Homo sapiens: one gene and its partner. The protein of the gene in region 1 interacts with the protein of each later gene in a pairwise test. Each region holds a gene or a part of one and is shown on either strand. Other genes may lie near its edges. The genes, in order: P4HA2 and PRRC2A.

The links.
Region 2: the proteins of P4HA2 (region 1) and PRRC2A interact in a two-hybrid assay, tested with the Homo sapiens proteins (one study listed by BioGRID and IntAct).

Annotation. Positions count from the first base shown.
Region 1 is NC_000005.10:132,203,413-132,211,532, forward strand, and holds part of P4HA2 (prolyl 4-hydroxylase subunit alpha-2 isoform 2 precursor), read right to left. Parts: intron 7,112-8,120; coding exon 6,872-7,111; intron 5,920-6,871; coding exon 5,726-5,919; intron 4,473-5,725; coding exon 4,296-4,472; intron 741-4,295; coding exon 670-740; intron 436-669; coding exon 336-435; intron 1-335. UniProt on the Homo sapiens protein: Catalyzes the post-translational formation of 4-hydroxyproline in -Xaa-Pro-Gly- sequences in collagens and other proteins.
Region 2 is NC_000006.12:31,630,015-31,638,134, forward strand, and holds the end of PRRC2A (protein PRRC2A), read left to right. Parts: intron 1-576; coding exon 577-787; intron 788-1,124; coding exon 1,125-2,978; intron 2,979-3,364; coding exon 3,365-3,633; intron 3,634-3,772; exon of another isoform or gene 3,773-3,844; coding exon 3,845-3,975; intron 3,976-4,221; coding exon 4,222-4,351; intron 4,352-4,457; coding exon 4,458-4,543; intron 4,544-4,738; coding exon 4,739-4,963; intron 4,964-5,117; coding exon 5,118-5,258; intron 5,259-5,379; coding exon 5,380-5,451; intron 5,452-5,567; coding exon 5,568-5,735; intron 5,736-5,952; coding exon 5,953-6,035; intron 6,036-6,194; coding exon 6,195-6,405; intron 6,406-6,495; coding exon 6,496-6,594; intron 6,595-6,718; coding exon 6,719-6,931; intron 6,932-7,027; coding exon 7,028-7,122; intron 7,123-7,219; coding exon 7,220-7,310; intron 7,311-7,431; coding exon 7,432-7,572; 3' UTR 7,573-7,757; downstream 7,758-8,120. UniProt on the Homo sapiens protein: May play a role in the regulation of pre-mRNA splicing.

The DNA of each region.
Region 1 (8,120 bases):
TTTAGCTCTCTTAGAGATGTCCCTGAGACCATTCAGGATTTGAGCTTCTGTTGTCAAGAAGACATGAACGAACCTACCATAACTACCCCTGATCCCTAGCTTGCAGCACACTTGGGCACACAGCAGATGCTCAATAGATATTTGTTGAACACTAATTGTTGAAAGCCAGCAGGCATGATTAATTCTGGTTTCCTAAAATGAGATCACTCCATATTCATAGCATCAGGCAGTAGTCATACAGTTGGGCCTCTTGGCCCAGTTCTGGACACCCTGTGAGACCATCTAGCCACAAATACCCACTTCCCAACTCCTACAGTCCCAGGTACTATCTGTACCTGTAACAATTCTGCAGTCTTTACTGTTAACCCTGTGATATGCTGCATCCGACGATTTACTCGGGCCACAACAGGGTCATCATCTTCCTCTAGCCAGGAGCTGGGCAAAAAGAAAAGGGCAGAGAAAAGAAGACGGAAGGGCAGGCTTCCATGAGGTCCTGAACTCTGTCCCCAGAGTCAGGGCCAGCATGAACAGGCAGTACAGGATGCCTGCTGCAAGGGGGTGAGGAGGTGCCAGCAGGCAGGAAAAGGCAAGCCACCCATCCCTAGGGTAGGCACTGAGAAGTCCTGAAGTTGGGGCTTGAGCAGCTACGAACCCCTGCTCTTTGCTTACCTTTTGGAAACCCGGTAGCTGGCGACAGTGAGGACTCCTGTCTTGGGATCACGAACGGTGGCTCGTGCAAGCTAGAAGGAAGGAGGAGAGGGAAGACTTGATTTGTTTGTTTGTTTGTTTTGCCTTGAATATTTTCCCAGAGAGCACTGGGACCAGATTTACTGCCATGCTAGTGGAGGAAGCTTTGCAGCCAATGGCTCTAGCCAAGGCCCCAAGATCCTGCAGGCCAGTTGAGGGCAAGAGTCTGAGGCCTCCACATTCCCAATCCGCAATCAGTTCCTGGCTATTGCCCTGCTCGGTCACTGCTCATCCCTTCTCCTCCCCAGGTCCGCTTTGCCTGCAGAATTATGCCTGCCTTGTCTACCCATGCATCTGCCTGACTAGCCCCTTTCCTTGCCAGGCCCACATACCACCCCTGCCTGAGCACAGCCTGCCTGAGCTTAGCTACTCCCACCATTTTCAGACTGTGCCACCATGCCTGAGCCTCCGCCTTATGTACTTCTCTCAATTGAGTCAAGTTCCACCATCCTTCCGAACCTCAGTGGGCTCCTCTGCCAAGAAACCCATCCAAACACTCTCCTGCTGCACCACCTCACACTGGGTTCCCACAGCCTCAAGAAGCAAAGACAGATGGCACAGTTTTCGCTCCCTTGGGATCCTTACAAGTCAGATGATAAAACCAGGAAAAGATTCTGTAAGTTAAAATAAGTGAACCACTGCCTGGAAGCCACCCACTCATACAGGTACACACTACACATGCACTCCCTGCATCTACTTCATCTCCCCCAGCCTCCACAGTTAGGCTTAGTGAAACCCCAAGGGGGACTCGCCGCCCAGAGCCAGCCAACATGGCAAAGGTCCATGTGCTTCAGCTGTGGACTGTCCTCATGACCTCACATGGGTGGGGCCATAGGCCCAGGTACTCCCACCCCAACACACTTCCCCTTGATTTCAATAAATATTGATGAGTGCCTACTTTGTGCCTGGCACTATGCTAGGTAACTGAGACATGGCCCCTGCACTCTTACAACTCAGTCAAGTGGGGAAAGCAGAAAACCAGTCAGGTAACTGCAGCACAGCATGGGTGAACTTACCATCCTGTGGAAGCTCAGGGTATAGTGTCAAGAATAGCTTCCTAGGGGAGGAGACCACCTAGCTGAGGCCTGAAGGGTTAACATGAGTTATCCAAGTAGAGGAACATTACAGGAACAGGGAAAGAGCAGCAATCCAGAGGCCTGGGAATGAAAATGGGTGTTGCAGTAGGTGTGGATTAAAGGTTATGGGAAGTAGTAAGAGAGAACAGGCTGAAGAGACAAGCAGGGGCTAGGAACTAGATGCAACCTTGTGGCCAACGAGAAATGGGGAAGGCTTTATGCAGGGGAGGGACACTCAAAATGTGAATGTAAAATGGATCACTGTGAATACCTCATGGAGAGTTGACTAATGAGGGGCCAGAGTGGGGACTGGGAGGCTAGTGAGGCCACGACAGAGGTCAGGGCAAGAGATGATGGTGGCCCGGGCCAGGTGGTGGCAGAAGGGATGGAGAGGAGTAGATGGACCAGAAGGCTAGTAAGGGGGTGAGATGGACCAACTTGGACACTGTGCTGCTATGGCATGATCTGGTAAGATGGCCAGCACAAGCAGGACAGACGGCTCCCAAGCTCCTACTCATGGCCCTTCCTGAGCTTCAGCTCATGTCAGTCCCTCCCTGAAAACTGCAGCCACAGCCAGACCCCATCCAAACATCTGTGCCTCAGCATTGGCCTGACACCCACAAAGAGGCTCTGAGCAGCTGTGCTCTGCCCCAGGGGAAGCACAGGGCTATTTTGAAAGCAGGCCAGAGACCCCACAGACAGCTGCCAGGCATTCCCCACAGGCCAAGTTAAGCTCATTGGCTCTACTTCAAAGCCAGAATAGCATCTGTCCCTCACAGTCTCCGGAAAGGAGGGGTCAGCTTATCTTTGAATAGAAGCCATGTTAAGAGCCAAACATGTTTGCCAACCTTGTTTGGCTCTTTGCATGGCTTCTATTCAAATATATCTTTTCCTAACACTACCCTCTGGCCAGCCACACACATGTGTACACATATGCACACATGCACAGAGAAATGTTCTCAGTGTCTGGAACTGAAGAACGGGTAAGAAATCTCTCAGGAAATCCTGGCACAACCAACAAAGTAGTTTTCTTTCCTGGAGGACTCTGGAGCTGAGTAGAAAGGGGAGTCCTAGTCCCCATTCTCCATATATCTGGCTAGCCCCCTTCCTCAGCCACATCGATGATGCCAACCACTGACTCAAAGCCCTAGATGTCCTAGTACCTCAAGCCAAAGCTGTTCCAAGATGAGGTCCAGGGGCCAGGATAGGAACCTATTTCAGGTCTCTCCATGAGTGTCGGGCCTCCTGGTCACCTCGGCCCCTACAATTCTATTAGGAGCAGAGCAATAGAGAATCGAGCTAAATCCTCCCTCCCAATCATCAGTGATGGGATATGGCAGCAAATAGGTCTCTTTGAAAGATGTCAAATGGGGAACAAATCTTTTATGAACTAGAAACAGAAGAATAATTTTAAAACATGGCATATATACAAAACCAACAGCCAACTGCATTCTTAGCAGTAAAATACCATAGGAATTTCCAGGAAATTCAGGAATGAGACAAGGATGCCTATTCTACGTAATTATGCTCTAGAAGTTCTGGGCAATTCAATAAGGTTATAAAAACAAAGGAACTACAAGTATCAGGAGAAAATAAAATTTTCCTTATTTCCAGGTGTTAATGCTATCCAGGCAACCAAAGAGAAATCAGCTAAAAACCAAAAAAGAAATAAGTAAATTCAACCACTAGCTGCAATCTGTATGAGTTTGCTTTTTCATAGGTAAAACAGAGACAGTGACATCATTATGAGCAGCTGTTCATAACTGTGACATAACACTTAATATATATGTTAAGCACTTAGAAGTTCCTGCCACAGTTAAGAATTCAGTAAACATTAGCTCTTACTATGAAATGTATTTGTAAAATCAATAGTTTGGCATATAATAGTAAACTAATAAAATAATGTAACCAGTTAAAAATAATAATGAAGAAATAAAGTAAATTAACAGTAACAAAGAAACTACCAAGGAATAAACTTAAGAAATGTTCAAGGCTTATATGAAGAAAACTTAAAAAGATATGGAGAGACCTGTCATGCCCTTGGATGAGAAGACCCAATATTATAAAGATATACATTCTCCTCTAAGTCATTCACCTCATTTACAGTCCTAATCAGGAGCTCCACAGGACCCAGCTTCATAGCATCCTATGGAACATTTCCAAAAAACTCACCCACGCACCAGTCTCCCAACCAGGTGAACTGACACACCAGTGTAGACCTGCCCTGTTCCCAGCGTGACCTTCTATGATAGCACTTGGCTGTCCACATTGGTTACCCTGTTCTTCTTCCACTGGACCATGAACTCACAAGGTCAGGCTGAGTCTGAAGCATCTCTGTATCCCCACGGTAGGCCCATGCTAGATATGGATAAAGGGTGGCTAGATGGGCAAACCAACCACCCATAGTGCTAGGGATGAGAAAAAGGACCTTCCCCCTTCAGTGACCCGAGAAGGACCTACAGTGACACCTACTTTAGGTTTTGCGATCTCCTTGATCCTCTCGATTTCCTCATCAGACATGACATCGTAGTACCTGACGATGTGCGGGCTGTCCCACTCGTCCTCCTCTTTGAAGGGGGCAATGAGCAGCTGTGGGGCCCTGTTGCCATGGTGGTACCTACAGAAAAGCCTCTTCTGTCTACGGGGTGTCTGGAAAGCACAGAGTAACAGGCCCTGAGCTGAGTGAGTCCTAATCCTCGGTCCCAGTCTGGCTGTCTGCAGACACTGGACTCACCTCATGGCCAGCAGCTGCTCCCTCCCACCACACCACAGAAGAAAACAAAAGTCCCAGCAGGTGGGCATGCACAGTGGCTCATGCCTGTAATCCGAGAACTCTGGGGGGCCAAAGGATAGCTTGAGACCAGGAGTTTGGGACCAGCCTAGATGACATAGACCTGTCTCTAAAAAATTAGCCAGGCATGATGGTGCATACCTGTAGTCCCAGCTACTCAGGAGACTGAGGCAGGAGGATTGCTCAAGGCTGGGAGGTCAAAGCTGCAGTGAGCTATGATTATACCACTGCACACCAGCCTGGGCGACAGGGTGAGACGAAAGAAAGAAAAGAAAAGGAAAAAGAGGAAACAGGAAAAAGAGAAGAAAAAGGAAGGAAGAAAGGAAGGGAGGGAGGGAGGGGAGGAGAGAGGAGGAGAAGGGGGAGGGGAGGGGGAGGGGAGGGGGAGGGGAGGGGGGGAGGGGAGGAGAGGGGGGAATGGGGGGAGGGGAGAGGAGAGGAGAGCCCCTTCAGCTTAACTGGCATGAAATAACACCCCACAAATCATGCAATTTTTCTTCTCTCCCAAAATCACCTCACATCCTCAAGTCCCATGGCAGAAAGTAATTCCTGACCCTTTTCGTGAAGACTTGAGTAGGTCTGAAGGGCTGGGACAGGGGAGAAACCTTTCTTGGTGGAGGAGCCAGTAGAAGCCATGCAGACAGGGGCATGGAAAAGGCTCAGAGCCTGTCACACCTGGGCCTCCTCAGGAAGCACTAGGATCCCAGGGCTCTCAAAGGCTCGATACCAAGCTCTAGTACACGCTGGTGTCTTTACCACAGAGACTTACTCTCCACTTATACCATGACTTCTTTTGGGGCCTGAGGTACGTCCACCCATTGTTTTCTTCCCAACAGTGAGTGAAGCAAAAAGTGGGACATATTGGGGTAAGGAGGCGAGCTCACTGGTAACTTAGAGGAGCAACACTCTACCTGGGGCACGAGGGGAGAGAGTCTCCTTTCCTACACCTCAGAGAATATCCACATGTCAGCCTCAGGAGATGCCATGAAAAACTGGGGGATATACTGAGAAAAGTACCTACAGAATAAAGAACACCTTCCCCAAATCTGCCTGCCCAGAGCCAGAGTCCAGGTCCACAGCTTTGGCACCCTAGCCCCCTCACACATCTCACCAGTTTGACACCCTCCCCACGACAGAGGCTCTCGTAAACATCCCTCTCAGGCAGGTAGTCCACAGGCCTCTCATAGATGCCTTCTGGGGTTGCTAGCTCAGCTTCTGTCTGATTTGTTAACGTTTTTTCTCTCTCTTCCTCCAATAACTGCTCAAAGTACCGCAGATTCCCTCCAGCTCGTTCGTGGCTTGGGTCTAGAAAATGCAAGGAATGAGAAGGAAAAGGAAACCACAAACATCTGTTAGGTCATTTAGAGAAATTATTCTGTAAGGGTTTCTCTCCCAGCAGCTCACCTGCATGCTGCATTCTACCTTCCACAGCATCTAACCAGAGTACGCTGGTCGTAACTGGAAAACCAACAGAGGCCAGGTGCGGTGGCTCATACCTGCAATCCCAGCACTTTGGGAGGCCGAGGCGGGTGGATCACGTGAGGTCACGAGTTCGAGACCAGCCTGACCAACATGGTAAAACCTCATCTCTACTAAAGAAAATACAACATGGGGCATGTGCCTCTGTAATCCCAGCCACCTGGGAGGCTGAGGCAGGAAAATCTCATCAACCCGGGAGGCGGAGGTTACAGTGAGCTGAGATCGTGCCACTGCTCTCCAGGCTGGATGAGTGAGACTCTGTCTCAAAAAAAAAAAAAAAAAAAGGTAGATGAGTTTTAAAGGCACAGTGCTTTTGGCCTTCTTCAGTCCAACAGCACAAGGCACACAAAGTATCAATGCCATATGAAGTCCTACTATTAGACCTCAGGCCTCTAATAGCACCGCTACTGTTTGTCACTGTAACAATCCTAAAGTACAACCTGACTCCTGAGCTGCTCCTGATGTAGTAAAGGTTCCACCCTGTGTAGTCCTGCATGGTGACAGATACACCATAACAGAGTCCTTATTAAAAAGGCCCACAAGTGCCACAGGCCTGAGCGTATCTATCAGCGACTGCGCAAACCTAAGGCCAGGATTGAGGTGGGTAAGGAGCTAGTAAGAAGCTGGACTGGTCCTAAAGTCAGTAAGGCATTAGTCACTGGCCAAGTGACAGGGTAAACTGACTCAGTCCCAGGAGAGGGGTCAGGCAGATGCCAGCACAGTGCAGTTCCTCTGCCACTCTCCATTCCCATCTTACCTTCCCCTAGAATCTCCTTACCAAGGGAGAGCAGGCGGCGGGTGAGCTCCAGGGCACGGTGCAGATCACCCAACTGGAAGACAGCATAGCTGAGGTAGTCCAGCACCTGTGACTTGGTTGTGGTGGCCTCCTCCCCGGCATCAAGCTGCTTTAGCACCTGCTCCATCCACAACACCGTATGATAATAGTCCCCTTCATTGTAGGCCGAGCGGCCCATCCCAAAGCAGTCATCCACACTCAGCATTGCCTGGTACTTGGTTCCTACAGCAGGGGAAGTAAATTGTCAGGCTCCAAAGAGCCTCTGGATTAGGGAAAGAGATTCCCACTTCAAGGAAAGCCTGAGCCACTGGATAGGGGGCATCACCAAGCAGAACTCCATCGGACATTTAGACTGCATATCCTAAAGGGCCACTGACACAGTGAGCACAGACAGATGGCCCAGCCCTGCCCTGGACTGGGGTTCACAGCCACCTCTTAGCCTCAGATTCCCCATCTCCCAAGTGGGAAGGGGCCTTTTTAGGGGGAGCCCCAGAAACCCACCAGGAAGCATTGTTGAGGACAGTGGGAAGGTCCTGTGGACCACAGAGAAGAAGATGTCTGGTGGGCAGTTTGCCATATGAGTCTAGAGGATGGAAAAATTAGCTGAATATAAAAAACATAAATTTAGGTGGCAACCAAGCCATGGGTGAGGAAAATAGCTTGCAGGAACTCTGAGGAAAGAATGGAGAAGATGACTAAGGCCAGAGCTCCAGGGAGCACCTACCCAGAAAGAACAGACAATGAATAACCCTGAGAATGAACTAAAGATAGGAGAAACAGAGGGAGCGGGAGTGGTGTGAGAGACACCAAGGGAGGCCAAGAGCCAAGGTTGCAGTGCCAGCTTTGGCTGTTAAGTGGCAGGGACCTTGCTGAGTATCAGTTCAGTGGGTCTTATGACCAAAGGTCATCTGCTGTAGAGGGAGTGCTGGAAAGTGACCATGAAGATAGTTTCAAGCCAATATGAAGAAGCAGCTATAGGGAGATGCAGGATTTAGGGTGAGCTCAAGATGGGAAAGACTATGTGTGTGGTTCCTCAGAGAATAATGAGAAAGCAGATACCATGGAGGGGAAGTGGGGGCTGTGACTCTCCCTGGAAAGCAAGGAAGACTCCCCACAGCCCCATTAACAGCAACCTGGGCATGGCTGACACAAAAGAACTCAGAGAAGGCTCTTTCTGCCTGGAATGAAACCACTACACAGTAGGCTAAATGCTTCAGAGACCAGGGTCTGC
Region 2 (8,120 bases), on another chromosome or scaffold:
TTAAGAAATAAGCAGTGGTTGGCCAGGCATTGTGGCTCACGCCTGTAATCCCAGCACTTAGGGAGGCCGAGGTGGGCAGATCAACTGAGTTCAGGAGTTCGAGACCACCATGGCTAACGTGGTAAAACCCCATTTCTACTAAAAATACAAAAAAGTAGCCGGCGTGGTGGCGCTCGCCTGTAGTCCCAGCTACTCGGGAGACTGAGGCAGGAGAAACGCTTGAACCCAGGAGGTGGAGGTTGTAGTGAGCCGAGATTGTGCCATCGCACTCCAGCTTAGGCAACGAGCGAAACTCCGTCTCAAAAATGAATGAATGAATAGCACAACTCCATCTCAAAAATGAATGAATGAATGAAAGAAGCAGTGGTCCTTCATTTGCCAGGATTTATTTGGGGTGGGTTGATTCTCTTGTAGGGAATCTGAGTGGATAACCTTGTTATATAAGAGCAGGCAAGGCCCGGACCTACTGGGAACAAGAGATGGAAGAGCTGACTTGACCGCGAGGGGAGATGCTTTTTGGGCTGGAGGGCTTGTGACATGAATAGGATTATTTTTCTTTTTCTTTGGTTTCTTCAGGCCTAGTTCCCCGAGAGCGTTCAGACAGTGGGGGCTCAAGCTCAGAGCCATTTGACCGTCATGCACCTGCTATGTTACGGGAACGGGGCACTCCACCGGTGGATCCAAAGTTGGCCTGGGTAGGAGATGTCTTCACCGCCACACCCGCTGAACCCCGCCCACTTACCTCACCTCTGCGCCAGGCTGCGGATGAGGATGACAAGGGGATGAGGTGAGTCTTGGTCATGAGAAATGGGTGAGTTCACAGTGAAAGGATCTAGGCCTGGGAGAAAGGTACTTTGGGTTAGTGGTAGGGATAGGGATGAACGGGAAAGGAGAGGCTGGATGGAGTGGCTCATGCCTGTAATCCCAGCATTTTGGGAGGCTGAGGCAAGAAGATTGCTTGAGCCCAGCAGTTCGAGACTAGCCTCGGCAACTGGATGCCATCTCTGCCAAAACAAACAGAAAAATAGTAAAAGAGAGTCTGCATCATAATAAAGTGTTCTTTTCCCACCTAGTTCTGGTTTTCCTGAGATACTTATTTCCATTCTTTCTGTCTGTCTCTTCAGGAGCGAGACTCCTCCAGTACCTCCCCCACCACCCTATCTGGCCAGTTATCCAGGCTTTCCTGAGAATGGAGCCCCTGGGCCCCCAATCTCTCGCTTTCCTCTGGAGGAACCAGGGCCCCGTCCACTCCCCTGGCCCCCAGGCAGTGATGAAGTGGCCAAGATACAAACTCCACCACCCAAGAAGGAGCCCCCTAAGGAGGAGACTGCACAGCTGACGGGGCCAGAAGCAGGCCGAAAGCCTGCCCGCGGAGTCGGGAGTGGAGGCCAGGGCCCCCCACCACCACGCAGAGAGAGTCGCACAGAGACCCGCTGGGGCCCTCGTCCAGGGAGCAGTCGTCGTGGAATCCCTCCAGAGGAGCCAGGGGCCCCACCCCGCCGGGCTGGGCCTATAAAGAAACCTCCACCACCTACAAAAGTAGAAGAGCTGCCTCCCAAGCCCCTCGAACAGGGGGATGAAACCCCCAAACCCCCAAAGCCAGACCCACTCAAGATAACCAAGGGGAAGCTAGGGGGCCCCAAGGAGACCCCACCCAATGGAAATCTTTCCCCTGCCCCAAGGCTTCGGAGGGACTATTCGTATGAAAGAGTGGGTCCTACCTCTTGCCGGGGTCGGGGCCGAGGCGAGTATTTTGCCAGAGGGAGGGGTTTTCGGGGGACCTATGGGGGACGAGGGCGGGGAGCCCGAAGCCGGGAATTCCGCAGTTACCGAGAGTTTCGAGGAGATGATGGGCGTGGAGGTGGGACAGGGGGACCAAACCACCCTCCTGCTCCCCGAGGCCGCACTGCCAGCGAGACACGGAGCGAGGGTTCAGAGTATGAGGAAATCCCCAAGCGGCGCCGGCAGCGGGGCTCAGAAACAGGCAGCGAGACCCATGAGAGTGATCTGGCTCCTTCAGACAAGGAGGCTCCCACACCCAAGGAGGGAACACTCACCCAGGTCCCTCTCGCTCCCCCACCACCAGGAGCCCCACCTTCACCAGCCCCAGCCCGCTTCACTGCCCGGGGTGGGCGAGTCTTCACTCCCAGAGGGGTGCCATCTCGCCGGGGCCGAGGAGGAGGGAGGCCCCCTCCTCAAGTTTGCCCAGGCTGGAGCCCTCCAGCCAAGTCTCTGGCTCCCAAGAAACCTCCCACAGGCCCTTTGCCACCAAGTAAGGAGCCTTTGAAAGAGAAGTTGATCCCAGGGCCTCTGTCCCCTGTGGCGCGCGGAGGCAGCAATGGAGGTAGCAATGTGGGCATGGAAGATGGGGAGCGACCCCGAAGGAGGCGACATGGGAGGGCTCAGCAGCAGGATAAACCGCCTCGTTTCCGGAGGCTGAAGCAGGAACGGGAGAATGCCGCAAGGGGGTCTGAGGGCAAGCCCTCCCTAACCCTTCCAGCCTCCGCTCCTGGACCTGAGGAGGCCCTCACAACAGTCACAGTGGCCCCAGCACCTCGCCGGGCAGCTGCCAAGTCTCCTGATCTGTCAAACCAGAACTCAGACCAAGCCAATGAGGAATGGGAGACTGCATCAGAGAGCAGTGACTTCACCAGTGAGCGCCGAGGGGACAAAGAGGCACCCCCACCAGTACTGCTGACACCCAAGGCTGTGGGAACTCCTGGGGGAGGTGGAGGTGGAGCCGTACCAGGTATTTCAGCCATGTCCCGCGGAGATCTGAGCCAGAGAGCCAAGGATTTGAGTAAACGGAGCTTCTCAAGTCAGCGGCCAGGCATGGAACGGCAGAATCGGCGCCCTGGCCCAGGGGGCAAGGCTGGCAGCAGTGGCAGCAGCAGTGGAGGAGGCGGTGGGGGTCCTGGAGGAAGGACCGGGCCAGGACGAGGCGACAAGAGGAGCTGGCCCTCTCCCAAGAACCGAAGGTGGGTAGGAACAAACAAATTTATTGTGGTTTAAAAATTGGAGGAGGGGGAAAAAGCCTGAGGGAAAGATAAGTTTGGGTGGAGTGGAGATTGTGGCCTGAGGGGCCATGGGCTCTAGAATGTCAGTAGGATTTCCATGTCTGGCTAAGGCAACTGGAAAGCGGTTGGTAGGGTGTTAGAGTCAAGAACACCCACCTATGTATTCATTGCTGGTTCTTTGCTTTCCAGTCTGTGCATCTGTATGCATAGGAATCCTTAGAAGGACTCAAAAACACCTGGACTTTAATAGGGAAGAGAATAGGTTGTAAGCAGAAGTTGGGAAACATAACTTGTGGGAAAAAGTAACGATTTAGTGGATACTGGAGCTAATGCTCTGTTTTCTCCAGTCGTCCTCCAGAGGAGCGTCCCCCGGGGCTTCCCCTGCCTCCCCCACCTCCCAGCAGTTCTGCTGTCTTCCGCCTGGACCAAGTTATCCACAGCAACCCTGCTGGCATCCAACAGGCTCTGGCCCAGCTTAGTAGCCGTCAAGGGAGTGTAACTGCACCAGGGGGTCATCCAAGGCACAAGCCTGGGCTTCCCCAAGCCCCTCAGGGCCCCTCTCCTAGGCCCCCAACCCGATACGAGCCCCAGAGGGTCAACAGCGGCCTCAGTTCTGGTAAGCTGGAGGGGTTATGGGTGGGAATATCTCCATCCCCAGAGAAGGTCAAGTGCTGGAGGGAGCGGGTGGAGAACCTGGCCTAGGGACCCTGCTGCTGGGTGCGTTTCTGCAGGGAGCAAGGGTAGAAGAATTGGGAGGTGGAGTAGAGAGGAAAAGTTAGGGTCAGTGGCAGAGCCAGGCAGATGCTGACCCTTTTTCTCTTTCCCAGACCCCCACTTTGAGGAGCCGGGGCCAATGGTGAGAGGGGTGGGTGGGACTCCTCGGGACTCTGCCGGGGTTAGTCCCTTTCCCCCTAAACGTCGGGAGCGGCCTCCCAGAAAACCAGAGCTGCTACAGGAGGTAAGGGATGGGTTTGAGATTGTGCTTCACTGCACTCTTACTCGTGAAAATTCTTCTGGGTTATGTTTTCTCTGTTTTCTTTCCTGTTTCTTTCACTGTGTTTTTACTCCAGAATTCTCAGTATTAGTCTCCCATGTGTCTCCCTTGTTGTCCCCACACCCTGTGTCACCCCACTCTGTCCTGGCTTCCTATAATTCCCAATTCCCACCCAATTCATGTTTTGCTTCTGGCCCTTCTCATCTGTAGGAATCTTTGCCACCTCCTCATAGCTCTGGATTCTTGGGCTCTAAGCCTGAGGGCCCAGGCCCTCAGGCAGAGTCCAGAGATACAGGCACAGAGGCCCTGACCCCTCACATCTGGAACCGTTTACATACTGGTGAGTAAAGCTGAGTGAAAGGACTATGGTAGAAGGGTTAAGAATGAGAGGGGCTTCTGAACTGTCATCTCCTCACTTCTCTTCTGGTTGGTGCTCCCTTCTCCAGCCACTAGCCGAAAGAGTTACCGGCCCAGCTCCATGGAGCCTTGGATGGAGCCCCTGAGTCCTTTTGAGGATGTGGCTGGCACAGAAGTGAGTGAGGGTGGGAGGGTGTGTCTGAGCTGGGACTTTTTTGAGCACTGGTCATACCCCCCACCTGCTCTGGGTTGAGTCTGGAGCTGTTCTCTCACTTGGCTGTCCCCTTTCTGCAGTTTGTATGTGTGCATCAGTCAGGTATTGGGGTGCTTTCTACCCTGACTTAACTAGCTCCTTCTCCACTCCTCTCAGATGAGTCAGTCTGACAGTGGGGTGGACCTGAGTGGGGATTCTCAGGTGTCATCAGGTCCCTGCAGCCAGCGAAGTTCCCCTGATGGAGGACTCAAGGGGGCAGCAGAGGGACCCCCCAAGAGGCCTGGAGGCTCCTCACCCCTGAATGCTGTTCCTTGTGAGGGTCCACCTGGCTCTGAACCTCCTAGGAGACCACCACCTGCCCCCCACGATGGGGACAGAAAGGTAAAAGACCAAAAAAGGATAAGGGGAATGTTTCCAGGAATCTGACTTTGGCCCTACCTTTTTCTGCTTTTTCTCTCTGCGTGTGTGTTCTGGGCATTCCAATTTGGATTTCCCTTTCCCTCCCCCAATGCACTTTACTGTGTGCCCAATCCAGGAGCTGCCCCGGGAGCAGCCTCTGCCCCCTGGCCCCATTGGCACAGAACGATCACAGCGTACAGACCGAGGCACAGAGCCTGGCCCCATTCGGCCATCCCATCGACCTGGTCCCCCAGTCCAGTTTGGCACTAGTGACAAGGTCTGTGTGGGCTGGATCTGGGTATCCTGAGTTGGGTGGAGAGAAGGGAAGGACTAAAGGTGGGACATAGAGGACACATGTCTGTCACGGGACAATGTCTCCTGCCTTCTTGTGATCACAGGACTCAGACTTACGCCTAGTGGTAGGAGACAGCTTGAAAGCAGAGAAGGAGCTAACAGCATCAGTCACTGAGGTAAGTGGGAGTAAGAGTTTGGTGGAAAGGCCCAAGATTTCTGGGGAAGATTGCTGGGAGTGACCAGGGCGTCCAGGATGCCAGACATCCCTCTCCACGAGGCCTCTCCTTCCCAGGCCATTCCTGTATCACGAGACTGGGAGCTGCTTCCCAGTGCTGCTGCCTCTGCTGAGCCACAATCCAAGAACCTGGATTCTGGGCACTGTGTCCCGGAGCCCAGCTCCTCAGGCCAGCGCCTGTATCCTGAGGTTTTCTATGGCAGTGCTGGGCCTTCCAGTTCTCAGGTAGGCCCCGCTTCCCATTGCATGACCCCTTCAGTGAATAATAATTTTTTTCTGCCTGGTATGTATTTATAATCAAGCCTTTCTACGTTGCAGAGTTGTGAGATACCACTTTGTCACATCATTTTTCTCCCTACTTTTTGCTTCTATGGGTGGGATGGTGATCTTTTTTCTTGACCACAGATACTAAAGCTGTTTCAACCGTGCTCCTCTCCTGCAGATCTCTGGGGGAGCCATGGACTCTCAATTACATCCAAACAGTGGAGGCTTCCGCCCTGGGACACCCTCACTGCACCCTTACAGGTAAGACTCGATGCCTGTGGATCACAGAAGTACTTGGAGATGTGTTTCGGGGAGAGGGAAGGGGAAGACACAGTTCTAGGGTACTAGAAGCTAGTGGACTTAAGGCATTGCTAGGACTCTGGCTTCCTAACAGCTTTTCTCCCCACAATTTATTTTCAGATCACAGCCCCTATACCTACCCCCCGGCCCAGCCCCTCCCTCAGCACTGCTCTCTGGGTTAGCTCTCAAGGGCCAGTTTCTGGATTTCTCCACAATGCAAGCTACAGAGCTGGGGAAGTTGCCGGCTGGAGGAGTTCTCTACCCTCCACCTTCCTTCCTCTACTCTCCGGCTTTCTGCCCCAGTCCTTTGCCTGACACATCGTTGCTTCAGGTAAGAGGGGGGCAGGTATTAGATATTGGGGGATAGGGTAGGGAGAATGATTTTGTGGGGGTTGATATATTTCTCCCTGTTTCCCGACAGGTACGCCAGGATCTGCCATCCCCTTCGGATTTTTATTCTACTCCTCTGCAGCCTGGTGGCCAAAGTGGCTTTCTCCCTTCAGGGGCTCCTGCCCAGCAGGTATATTGTATCTTCACACTTCCCCTTCATTTGATTTCTCTGTCCAGTTGCTGGCTTTGATTTTCCCTGGTTTTCTGACATTCCTCCCTGCCCCCAACATGCACACCCAAATTTCTTGTTACAGATGCTTCTACCCATGGTAGACTCACAGCTGCCTGTGGTGAACTTTGGCTCCCTGCCGCCAGCACCACCTCCTGCCCCACCTCCCCTTTCTCTGTTACCTGTGGGCCCTGCTCTGCAGCCCCCCAGCCTGGCTGTGCGGCCCCCACCTGCTCCTGCTACTCGGGTGCTGCCTTCACCTGCCAGGCCCTTCCCCGCTAGCTTGGGGCGAGCAGAGGTAAGGTACAGGAACTGAGGGGCTAGGGAGCGCCAAGACTTGGGAGTAGGGATTCTGTATTTCAAGGTAGGCAGCTCATGATTTTTTTCCCCTCAGCTGCATCCAGTGGAACTAAAGCCGTTCCAGGATTATCAAAAACTGAGCAGCAACCTTGGGGGACCTGGATCATCACGGACTCCCCCAACTGGAAGGTGAAACGGAATAGGGATGTGGACTTTCCAAGTGCTTCCTTACTTTGGAACCAGGGTCTGGATCCTAGGCTTGCCTTAGACGCCCTTCTTCCCTTAGGTCCTTCTCTGGCCTCAATTCCCGTCTCAAGGCCACGCCTTCCACCTACAGTGGAGTCTTCCGCACCCAGCGCGTCGACCTTTACCAGCAGGTGAAGGAGAAACCCTTGTGGCCCCAACTCTAAATTCGAGTTGCCACCTGATTTCCTGTCCTTCCGTCTCATCGCTGACCTCTCACTGTGACTCACTGTTTAACACATGCCTGTCCCCTAGGCCTCCCCACCAGATGCCCTGCGCTGGATACCTAAGCCTTGGGAGCGGACAGGGCCGCCACCTCGAGAAGGGCCCTCCCGACGGGCAGAGGAGCCTGGGTCCCGAGGGGACAAGGAGCCTGGGTTGCCCCCACCCCGCTGAGGGAGTTCCTCTTGCCCCCTACCCCCGGGGCTTGTATATAGATTATAAATATATAAGGGGGAAAGGGGTGGGCGGGGAGGGGTTCTGGGGCTGGGGCCTCACTTCCCCTCCTCCCCCTTCCCCTGGTCCCCTGTCCCTGGGGCTGTTTGTTAAAAAAGAGTAATAAAAGGATTTAAAAAAAAAAACTTCTACAATGATTTGGGGGATGAGTTGTTTGCATTGTCTTAAAGCATGGTGCTGAGTGATCTGTAGTTTCAGTCAGGGAAATATTCATTACTTATTCCAGTGAGCTGTTGAAACTAAAAACATGACCATCGTATTGGATCTTTAAATTTTTGTGAGTCTGGAATTTGGGCTGAGCTCAGCTGGATAAATCTGCTTTTTTGTGCCAGTGAGCGAGGTCAACTGGTTATCAGTCTGCAGCTGACACCTGGGCTGGTCCCAATATGGCTTCCTTTGCATATCTAGGGCCTTGGTGGGACATCTGTAACATTACTGGGTTATCAACCAGTGTCTTCACATGGACTCTCCAGCAGGCCTGTTAAATG